2 separate regions of the Homo sapiens genome follow, and region 2 is linked to region 1. The links come from fine-mapping of genetic effects on gene expression. A gene starts in region 1. The other region holds a variant in brackets. All regions are shown on one strand. Distances are between the middles of the regions. Region 1 holds the start of TMC4 (transmembrane channel like 4). Region 2 has its middle 9.2 kb from the start of TARM1.

Region 1 (5,000 bases):
AACCTAATGCTAGGCAGAAGAAGCCAGCACAAAAGACTGAAGACTGTATGATTCTATTTGCACAACGTTGCAGAGCACAGCTTGCAAAGCTCTACAGAAAAGCAGGAGGCTGGAGTGGGAGGATCGCTTGAGCCCAGGTGTCGGAGGCTGCAGTGAGCTGAGACTGCACCACTGCACTCCAGCCTGGGCATCAGAGCAAGACTCTGTCAAAAAAAAAAAAAAAAAGGTTAGGGAGAAGAGGTTACCTTGTATTTGTGAGGAAAAAGGGGGTGTCAGGGGAGGGACGCACAGGGTGCTGTCATGCCGTGTCACTTGCCCTAGCTGGAGTTTATCTGGGCTCTCACTTTATGAATACAGCCATCCCTCAGTATCCATGGGGGTTGGTTCAAGGACTCCCCAAGAATACTGAAATCTGTAGATGCCCAAATTCCTTATATAAAACGGTATAGTATTTGCATACAGGCTACACACATCCTCCTGTGTTTGTTTTATTTTATTTTATTTTAATTTTTATCTGATTTTTACAGACAAATGTCTCGTTTTGTTGTCCAGGCTGGAGTGCGGTGGTGCAATCATAGCTCAATGCAGCCTCAAACTTCCAGGCTCAAGCAATTCTCCCGCCTCAGCCTCCCAAAGCGCTGGGGCTACAGGTATGGGCCACGACACCCAGCCCTCCAATGCACTTTAAATCACCTCTAGATTACTTATAACACCCGGTACAAGGTAAATGTTATATAGATAGCTGTTCTTTTAACTTGTATTATTTTTTGTCATATTGTTACTTTGATTATTACTTTTAAAAAATAGAGATGGGGGTCTCGCTATGTTACTCAGGCCGCAGTATAGTGGCTATATTCACAGGCATGATCCCACTACTGATCGGTGTGGGAGTGTTGATACATTGTTATTTTTTATTGTTTTTTCCATATATATACACATATATATACATATATATGTGTATATATATACACACATATGCATATATATACGCATATATATTTGAGATGGAGTCCCGCTCTATCACCCAGGCCGGAGTCCAATGGCACGATCTTGGCTCACTGCAACCTCTATCTCCCTGGTTCAAGCGATTCTCCTGCTTCAGCCTCCCGAGTAGCTGGGATTACAGGCACCCGCCACCACACCCAGCTAATGTTTGTATTTTTAGTAGAGTTGGGGTTTTGCCATGTTGGCCAGGCTGGTCTCGAACTCCTGACCACAGGTGATCCACTCGCCTGGGCCTCCCAAAGTGCTGGGATTACAGGTGTGAGCCACTGCAATGGGCCCATAATCATTTTTGAAGGAGGGCACCTGCATTTTCATTGTTCACCAGGCCCTGCAAATTATGCAGTGAGAATGGGAAAAGAAAGAAGTTAAAGAGAGGGAGGCTTGGAAGAGGAGGCAAAGATGAAGGAAGGTATAAAGCAGAGAGAAATAAATATTAACAGATTTTGGACACACACACAGAGAGAAACTGAGGCAGAGACAGGATTGGTGGAGACCAGGGAGACGGCAAATCCCAGAGAGAAGAGACCCCAGAGCCATCGAAAGGCAGCACTCACCTGGAGTCCGAAGTAGAGACAAAGATGAGGGGAAGAAAGAAACCAAGAGAGGCAGCTCTGAGCGGGGCAGAGAGAGGCCCCAGAAGCCAGGAGCGGCAGAGGACAGAGGGAGGAGACCGAGTCCAGGGTATGGGAGAAGGGCCCGGTCCGGGCTGTGCGGGTCCCAGCTGGAGGTGGGGCCTCACCTGTGTGCCCGTCTGGCCTGCATGGGCCAGGGCAGTTCCCGGGAAGGGTGAGGGTCCTGCAGCTCTGTCTGGGTGACTTCTGTGAAGGCCTTTCTGCTCCTTCCTCCATCCTCCTCCTCCTCCTCCAGCGCCCCCCAAGGCAGCACCCCAGGGTCTCGGTACCGAAGGGTGGCAGCACTGGGCAGCTCGTTCAGCACAGAAGACAGCGATGGGCCTGGGGAGGAGCAGGGGGCTGGGAAGACCCGGGAGTCTGGGCCCTAATTCCTCCTCCCTCAGACCAGGAAACCAGGTCCCCGGCCCCTCCTCCCTCAGACCCAGGAGTCCAGGCCCCCGGCTCCTCCTCCCTCAGACCCAGGAGTCCAGGCCCCCGGCTCCTCCTCCCTCAGACCCAGGAGTCCAGGCCCCCGGCTCCTCCTCCCTCAGACCCAGGAGTCCAGGCCCCCGGCTCCTCCTCCCTCAGACCCAGGAGTCCAGGCCCCCGGCTCCTCCTCCCTCAGACCCAGGAGTCCAGGCCCCCGGCTCCTCCTCCCTCAGACCCAGGAGAACAGGCCCCCGGCGCCTCCTCCCTCAGACCCAGGAGTCCAGGCCCCCGGCTCCTCCTCCCTCAGACCCAGGAGAACAGGCCCCCGGCCCCTCCTCCCTCAGACCCAGGAGTCCAGGCCCCCGGCTCCTCCTCCCTCAGACATAGGAATCCAGGCACCCAGCCCCTCCTCCCTCAGACCAGGAAACCAGGTTCCCAGCCCCTCCTCCCTCAGGCCCAGGAGTCCGGGTGCCAGCCTCTACTTCCCCTGGACCCAGGGGTCCACAGCCCTCAACTCCATCCCCAAGCGTGGAACCCTCCTACTCCAGGGCAGTGGAGTCCAGGCTTTAACTTCCTTTTCCCTCTAGCTCAGGAGTGTGGGAACCCAGCCTCTCCTATTCCCAAGACACCCAAACTCCCAGCCCTTAGCCCTCCCCTCCTCCCAGACTAGCCTGGTTCTCCAGGCTCCTCCTCCTCAGACCCTGGAGTTCCAGCCTCCAGTTCCCTTCTCCCCCATAATATCAGGAAGTGGAACCTTCTCTCTTTAGCCCTCAGACTCAGGAGGCCAGGCCTCCCCTTTCCTCCTCCAGCAGGACTCCCACCTAGCCTGAAGGTCGGATGGATCTGAGCTTCTCCTGGCATTCCCTACCTCCTCTGGCCTCCCGGGGGGCCAGCCACTCCCTAGAGGAGCCCCAGGCTTCTGATTCCAAGGTCGGGTTTTCTTCCATGGCCCCAGGCTGGGCTGTCTCTAGTGGCCACCAGGCAGACACTGCCCCAGGTAAGGGAGGGGCCAGGGGCAGGTGTGTACCTGGCCAGCAGGTGGCCCGGAGGGAGTAAGGTACACTTCCTGTGGTTTCTCAGGGCCGCTGATGCGAAAGGTCTCCTGGGAGCTGAAGTCCCCGTGGTGCCCCGGGCCTCACAGTTTGGTTCCTGGGCTGGGCGGGGGGGCTGTACCTCACCCTGGGACTTGGTGGACTAAGTCCTTCCCACCGTTTATCACCCAGATACCTGCACGGACACGATGCCTTTGTGCAACACTTTATTGGGAAAGATTTACACACGGTGACCTGTCATAGGCCAAGCGATGAGAAGAGGGCGCCAGGAGTGCTGGGGTCCCGAGGTGGCTCAGATGGAAGCCATGGGACGGCCGTCCCCAGGCCCGCGCACCCGCACCTCAGTTTCCCCTTTGTGAAATGGGAAGCTTATGCTTCCTTCCAAGTCTGCAATATTGGTGCGATGAGCTAAAAGTGGAGCGAAAGACACAAGGAAGAGGCTTCCCACTCCCAGGACCTGCCCCCAAGCTCCGACCCCACATTGTGGATGCAAAGAAAGGGAATTTGCCCAAAACCCACTGCCCAGGGGCCCCTTCCGTTTTGGGGAAGTGCAGTGCTCTCTGGATACCCAGAAGCTGGAGCAGGGGCCAGTGACTCTTGTCTGGACAATACTTTGATTTTGTAGGAGTGGAGGTGGCCTCTGGGCAGAGGGCAGGGAGGACACCCCCGGGTCTGCTTCAGTTGCAGGCAGGGTATTTAGCTGGGGAAGAGGAAATTCTCTCCAGGACCCTCTCCAAGGTAAGGACTCTTTCTGGGGAGGAGACAGCAGCCTGGTTCACAGAATTCCCGGGACCAGCTGGCAGAGGGAGCGTCGTGACAGCTTACTCCTCCCGGAGCTTCTCCGGGGCAAGGCTGGTGGGCTGGGATGCTGCCTTCCGCCGGCTGGGGCTGCCCCCACCTAAAGCCAGCCCCAGCCCCAGGGCTGCCAGGGCCAGGAAGTGGATACAGAAGTAGATGGAGGCCCAGTACCGAAGGGTGTCGGCCAAGGAGAGCAGCACGAAGCCCATGCACATGTAGTCATAGGCGCGCATCTTCAGGAACCAGTGCACCCAGTCCCAGGCCTTCTGGCCCCCTGGGCTCAGCCGCCCCCGCAGGGCTGACTCCAGCCGGCCCTCGGCAGCCAGGCACAGCGGGATGGTCAGGAAGCTCAGGTAGTAGCCCGGGTGGAGGCCGTGCCAGTAGGCGCTCAGCAGCATGGTCCAGGCGCTCCTGAGGAGGAGGCTGGGAGTCAGGACCTACGAGTCCAGGTCCCCAGTGCCCACTGCCCCCAGATCCAGGAGTCCAGGACCCCAGCCCCTCCTCCCTCAGACCGAGAAGTGCAGGCCCAGCCCCTCCTCCCTCAGACCCAGGAGTCCAGACCCCACCCCTTCCTCCCTCAGACCCAGGAGATCAGGCCCCAGTCCCTCCTCCCTCAGACCCAGGAGACCAGACCCCACCTCCCTCCTCCCTCAGATCCAGGAGTCCAGACCCCACTTCCCTCCTCCCTCAGATCCAGGAGACCAGACCCCACCTCCCTCCTCCCTCAGATCCAGGAGACCAGGCCCCAGGCCCTCCCCACTCAGACCCATGACCCTAGCTCCGGAAGGCGGAGGAGGCTACAGGCCTCTGTCTCCTTCAGGGATCCAGGAGCTCGCAGCCTTCCATACACACTCAGTCCTATCAAGACCCTCTTCTTCTTTAAAGATTTAACATTTTATATTCCACTGCCCTTCCTCTCCCAGGACCAACAAGTCTTAATTCTTCAGCCCAGTGGTTTTTTTTTTTTTTTTTTGAGACAGAGTCTCGCTCTGTCGCCCAGGCTAGAGTGCAGTGGCGCGATCTTGGCTCACTGCAAGCTCCGCCTCCCAGGTTCACGCCATTCTCCTGCCTCAGCCTCCCGAGTAGCTGGGACTACAGGCGCCTG
Region 2 (5,514 bases), 82 kb before region 1:
AGGGTCTCACTGTGTCACCCAGGTTGGAGTGCAGTGGTGTGATCTCGACTCACTGCAACCTCTGCCTCTCGGGTTCAAGTGATTCTCTTGCCCCAGCCCTCCCAAGTACAAGGAATTACAGGGTTGTGCCACCACGCTGGGCTAATTTTTGTACTTTTAGTAGAGACAGTGTTTTGCCATGTTGGCCAGGGCTGGTCTCGAACTTCTGGGCCCAAGTGATCCGCCTGCCTCGACCTCCCAAAGTTCTGGGATTACAGGTGTGAACCACCATGCCTCGCCTAAACTACATTCTTGAATTAGTTTTATGGCACAGAATATCTTTTTCTCCTCTCTCAATGCCCTCTCTCTCTCTAGCTCCCTCTCCTCCCCTACAGCTGCAAAGAAGAGATCTTCTTAATCCATTTCTTAAACTTCTTTTGATCAATTATAAAGAATTTTTTTTTTAGATGGAGTCTCACTCTGTCACCCAGGATGGAGTACAATGGCACAATCTCAGCTCACTGCAACCTCTGCCTCCCGGGTTCAAGTGATTCTCCTGCCTCAGCCTCCCAAGTAGCTGGGACTACAGGCATGTGCCACTATGCCCAGCTACTTTTTTTTTTTTTTTTTTTGTATTTTTAGTAGAGACGGGGTTTCACCATGTTAGCCAGGATGGTCTTGATCTCCTGACCTCATGATCCGCCCACCTCAGCCTTCCAAAGTGCTGGGACTACAGGCGTGTGCCACTACACCCGGCTACTTTTTTTTTTGTGTGTGTGTGTGTTTAGTAGAGATGGAGTTTCACCATGTTAGCCAAGATGGTCTCGATCTCCTGACCTTGTGATCCGCCCGCCTCAGCCTCCCAAAGTGCTGGGATTACAGGTGTAAGCCACTGTGCCCGGCCAATTATAAATATTTTTTAAGGCTAAACTCTGGAATTTTGCTAGTTAGCCTTAAAAGCACAAAGCAGGCCTATAAAGTTCAATTTTACTGGTAGAAAGCAAGAAATGGATGAATAGGATGTTCGCTGACAACCATGCAATTGAAACCTCCTTTGCAAAAATTACGAGAGTGAGCAAAGGATGGCAGTGAAGGAGATCGGATCTGGCCAGCCCCTACCTTGCCTTTGGCCCTCAAACTGCCTGTAGTTATTCCTGGGTTTAGGCTAATCTGACTTGTCTCTTTGGGAGACATTTATTTTATTTTCTTTTATATTTCCTTGAGACGGAGTCTCGCTCTGTAGCCCGGGCTGGAGTGCAGTGGTGAGATCTCGGTTCACCGCAACCTCTGCATCCTAGTTCAAGGGATTCTCCTGCCTCAGCCTCCAGAGTAGCTGGAATTACAGGTGCCTGCCACCATGCCCGACTAATTTTTGTATTTTTAGTAGAGACGGGGTTTCACCATGTTGGCCAGGCTGGTCTGAAACTCCTGACCTCAAGTGATCCGCCCGCCTTGGCCTCCCAAAGTGCTGGGATTAGAGGAAAGAAGGAAAGGAAGGAAAAGAAAGGAAAAGAGAGGAGAGGAGAGGGGAGGGGAGGGGAAGGGAGAGAAAGGAAAGGAAAGGGAGAGAAAGGGAAGAGAGAAAGAAAGAAGAAAAGAGAGAAAGAAAGAAAGAAAGAAAAGAAAAAGAAAGAAAGAAAAAGAAAGAAAGAAGAAAAAAGAAAAGAGAAAAGGAAGGAGGGAGGGAGGGAGGCAAGGAAGGAAGGAAGCAAGAAAGAGAGAAAGAGAAAAGAGGCTCCTTATAAACAACAAAAGACACCCTTCTCACCAAGGGTTTTTGGAAATTCCAGAGTGATGGGGTGAGAAGGGTGTCTTTGGAACCAAAGCTGAAGACCAAGTACATATTTCTTACTATATCACGGTATCACGGGAGGTAAAACGGAGGTGTCCTTGAAGCAGCTCCTCCCCAGCCCCCAATCCTCTTGTGTGCCCGGAGGATCAGAAGAGGTCCCGCCGAGACTCAGCTTAGCTGTGGTTCAAGCCTCTGATTGCGTGGATAAGTACCAGGTTTCCAGAGTGCCAGGGCGGGGCTGCCCCTTGCGGTGGCATTAACTTTCCATGGCTATTTAAAATCAGCAGAGGACACACGATCTTCAGATGGGTCCTGTTTTACTTCCATATTTTCTCCTAGAGAGAAGAAAAATCATTAAACTTTTTTTTGTTTGTTTTTTGTTTTTTTGTTTTATTCGTTGTTTTTCTTTTTTTTGGGACGGAGTCTCGCTCTGTGGCCCAGGCTGGAGTGCAATGGCGTGTATCAGCTCACTGCAACCTCTGCCTCCAGGGTTCAAGTGATTCTCCTGCCTCAGCCTCCCGAGTAGCTGGGATTACAGCTTTGTATTTTTAGTAGAGTCGGGGTTTCACTATATTGGCCAGGGTGGTCTCCAACTCCTGACCTCAGGTGATCTGCCTGCCTTGGCCTCCCAAAGTGCTGGGATTACAGGCGTGAACCACCGCACCTGGCCTACTGT[A/ATTT]TTTTTTTTTTTTTTGAATAGAGAAGGGAGTCTCAAACTCTTGGCCTCAAGCCATCCTCCTGCCTCAGCTTCCCAAAATGCTGGGATTACGAGTGAGCCACTGCACCTATCCCACCCCCTCCCACCCTCATTTTTAGAAGGGCACAGGCTAGAGACCATATTTCCATCAGTCACTTTTGCGGCTAGACCTGGCCATGAGACTAAGTTCTAGCCAATGGGATGCGATAGGAAGATATATGCTCAAATTCTAGGTCCTGCTCTTAAAAAATAATTGTGTGGGCCGGGCGCAGTGGCTCACGCCTGTAATTCCAGTACTTTGGGAGGCTGAGGCAGGCGGATCACGAGGTCAGGAAATCGAGACCATCCTGGATAACACGGTGAAACCCCGTCTCTACTAAAAATACAAAAAAAATTAGCCGGGTGTGGTGGTGGACGCCTGTAGTCCCAGCTACTCGGGAGGCTGAGGCAGGAGAATGGCGTGAACCCGGGAGGCGGAGCTTGCAGTGAGCCGAGATCGCGCCACTGCACTCCAGCCTGGGCGACAGAGCAAGACTCCAACTCGGAAAAAAAAAATAATAATAATTGTGTGAGCCCTTTTCTCTCTGTCCTCTCCACTTTCTTGGGGCTCAGAACCAGAAATTAAAGCTACATGTTGATAAAAGCAAAACCATCCCACCTTAACAAGTAAATCGTTGAGATTGCCCAGTGATTTACTGTTAAGTGAGAGAGAGGTACATTTATATCTAGTTTTTTTCCGGTGGTGAAGGAGATTCTTTTTTTCTCTCTCTCTCTCTTTTTTATGAGATGGAGCTTGGCTCTTGTTGCCCAGGCTGGAGTGCAATGGCACGACCTCGGCTCAGTGAAACCTCCGCCTCCCGGGTTCAAGTGATTCTCCTGCCTCAGCCTCCCGAGTAGCTGGGATTACAGGCATGCACCACCACACCAGGCTAATTTTTTGTATTTAGTAGAGACAGGGTTTCACCATGTTAATCAGGCTGCTCTCGAACTCCTGACCTCAGGTGATCCACCTGCCTTGGCCTCCCAAAGTGCTAGGATTACAGGTGTGCGCCACTGCACCTGGCCGGGAGATTCTTTTTTACAACAGCTTAAAGTGCTCTGTAACCAATACACTATGCAGTGATTTGGTTAATACTTTGTGAGTTCCATGAGTGCAGGGTTTACGTCTGCTATTGCTCCCCACTGGACCGCCGGACTCTAGCACAATGCCATGCACGGTAGACATTGAATACATGAGTGATACGAGGATGAATGAGACTAGGGGAAATCAGTGGAAGCCCTAGGCCTGGCGCAGTGACTCACTCCTGGAATCCCAGCACTTTGGGAGGCCAAGGAAGGAGGATGGCTTGAGGCCAGGCATTCAAGACCAGCCTGGACAACATGGTGAGACCCCATAGCTATAAAAAGTAAACAATTAGCCGGGCGCGGTGGCTCACGCCTGTAATTCCAGCACTTTGGGAGGCCGAGGCGGGTGGATCACGAGGTCAATAGATCGAGACCATCCTGGCCAACATGGTGAAACCCCATCTCTACTAAAAATACAAAAGTTAGCTGGGCGTGGTGGTGGCACACGCCTGTAATCCCAGCTACTCGGGAGGCCGAGGCAGGAGAATCGCTTGAACCCAGGAGGCGGAGGTTGCAGTGAGCCGAGATCGCGTCATTGCACTACAGCCTGGCAACAGAGCGAGACTCCATCTCAAAAAAAAATAATAATAATAATAGTAATAATAAATTGGCCAGGCGTGGTGATGGCAGTGTTGTCATTGCTTTAAGAGGCAGGAACAGGGGGAAAAGACCCAGCAGTCTAACCACACAGACAAGTCCCAAGTTAAGCACTTCTGTGTGACTTGGGGGCTGTTGATAAAGATCAGAAATAACCTATGTGGATCACCCAGCAAAATGACCAGTATGAAAAGATGTTCAGTGGTAGAAAATGAAATAAGCATTGTGACTACAACTCACTCAATAAGCATTCATTGAACACTGGTCACTGGTAAACTGCTATGAAGAAATCTCAGCTGGGTGCAGTGGCTCACGCTTGTAATCCCAGCACTTTAAAGGGAGACCAAGGTGGGCAGATGGATCACTTTAGGTCAAGCGTTCGAGAACAGCCTGGCCAACATGGTGAAACCCCATCTCTACTAAAAACACAAAATTAGCCGGGCATGGTGGCAGGTGCCTGTAATCCCAGCTACTTGGGAGGCTGAGGCAGGAGAATCGTTTGAACCCGGGAGGTGGAGATTGTAGTGAGCTGAGATCACAACACTGCACTCCAACCTGGGAAACAGAGCAAGACTCCATCTCAAAAAGAAAAAAAATCTCAAGCTTATTGGATAGATAAATGCACAGGTAGATAGATGGATATTGAATGAATAAATAGTTCAGTGGATTAAAAACTGGTTAATGAAGAAATGGATGGGTAAATGGATGGAAATATGAATGAATGCATGATGGATAAGGACAAATGAAATAGACAAATGTACAAATGAAAGCAAAGGAAAAAGAGATGCTCAATAGAAATGAATAAGGATGAGAATCAATGCTAGACATGAATGAGTGAATGGTGAATGAAGGAGTGATTGAATGGATGAATACATGGAGTTAAGTTGAAGTACAAACTCGGCCAAGACTTCTTTTTCTCTGCTTTGGGTGGAAATACATTTTAAAAAAAAGAGGGCCGGGCACGGTGGCTCATGCCTGTAATCCCAGCACTTTGGGAGGCTGAGGCGGGCGGATCACCTGAGTTTGGGAGTTCGAGGCCAGCCTGACCTACACAGAGAAACCCTGTTTCTACTCAAAATACAAAATTAGCCAGGTGTGGTGGCTCACACCTGTAATCCCAGCTACTCGGGAGGCTGAGGCAGGAGAATCACTTGAACCTGGGAGGCGGAGGTTGTGGTGAGCCGAGATGGCGCCATTGCACTCCAGCCTGGGCAACAAGAGCGAAAGTCCACCTCAAAAAAAATAAAATAAAATAAAATAAAATAAAAAAAGAGGGAAAAAGGAAAAAAAAAGACTCCCTGATGTGCCACTGACTTCCTGTACATGT

Evidence for each region. PIP is the estimated chance that this variant, and not a neighbour inherited with it, causes the effect.
Region 2: its variant is the best candidate, but not a certain one, in a credible set for the expression of TMC4 in whole blood (INTERVAL, PIP 0.69).

The regions. Positions count from the first base shown.
Region 1 is chr19:54,170,126-54,175,125 of GRCh38, forward strand. TMC4 (transmembrane channel like 4) reads right to left here and starts at 3,035. Exons shown (of 15, transcript NM_144686.4): 1 at 2,914-3,035; 2 at 1,745-1,958. The coding sequence starts at 2,992. It overlaps MBOAT7 (membrane bound acylglycerophosphatidylinositol O-acyltransferase MBOAT7), which reads right to left. Exons shown (of 8, transcript NM_024298.5): 8 at 3,290-4,306. The coding sequence ends at 3,919. RefSeq lists enhancers at 3,158-3,974, 3,975-4,790.
Region 2 is chr19:54,087,770-54,093,283 of GRCh38, forward strand. No RefSeq gene overlaps it. Among named protein-coding and RNA genes, the nearest start is that of TARM1, 9.2 kb to the left of the region's middle. The variant A/ATTT (reference allele first, on the strand shown) is at 2,448.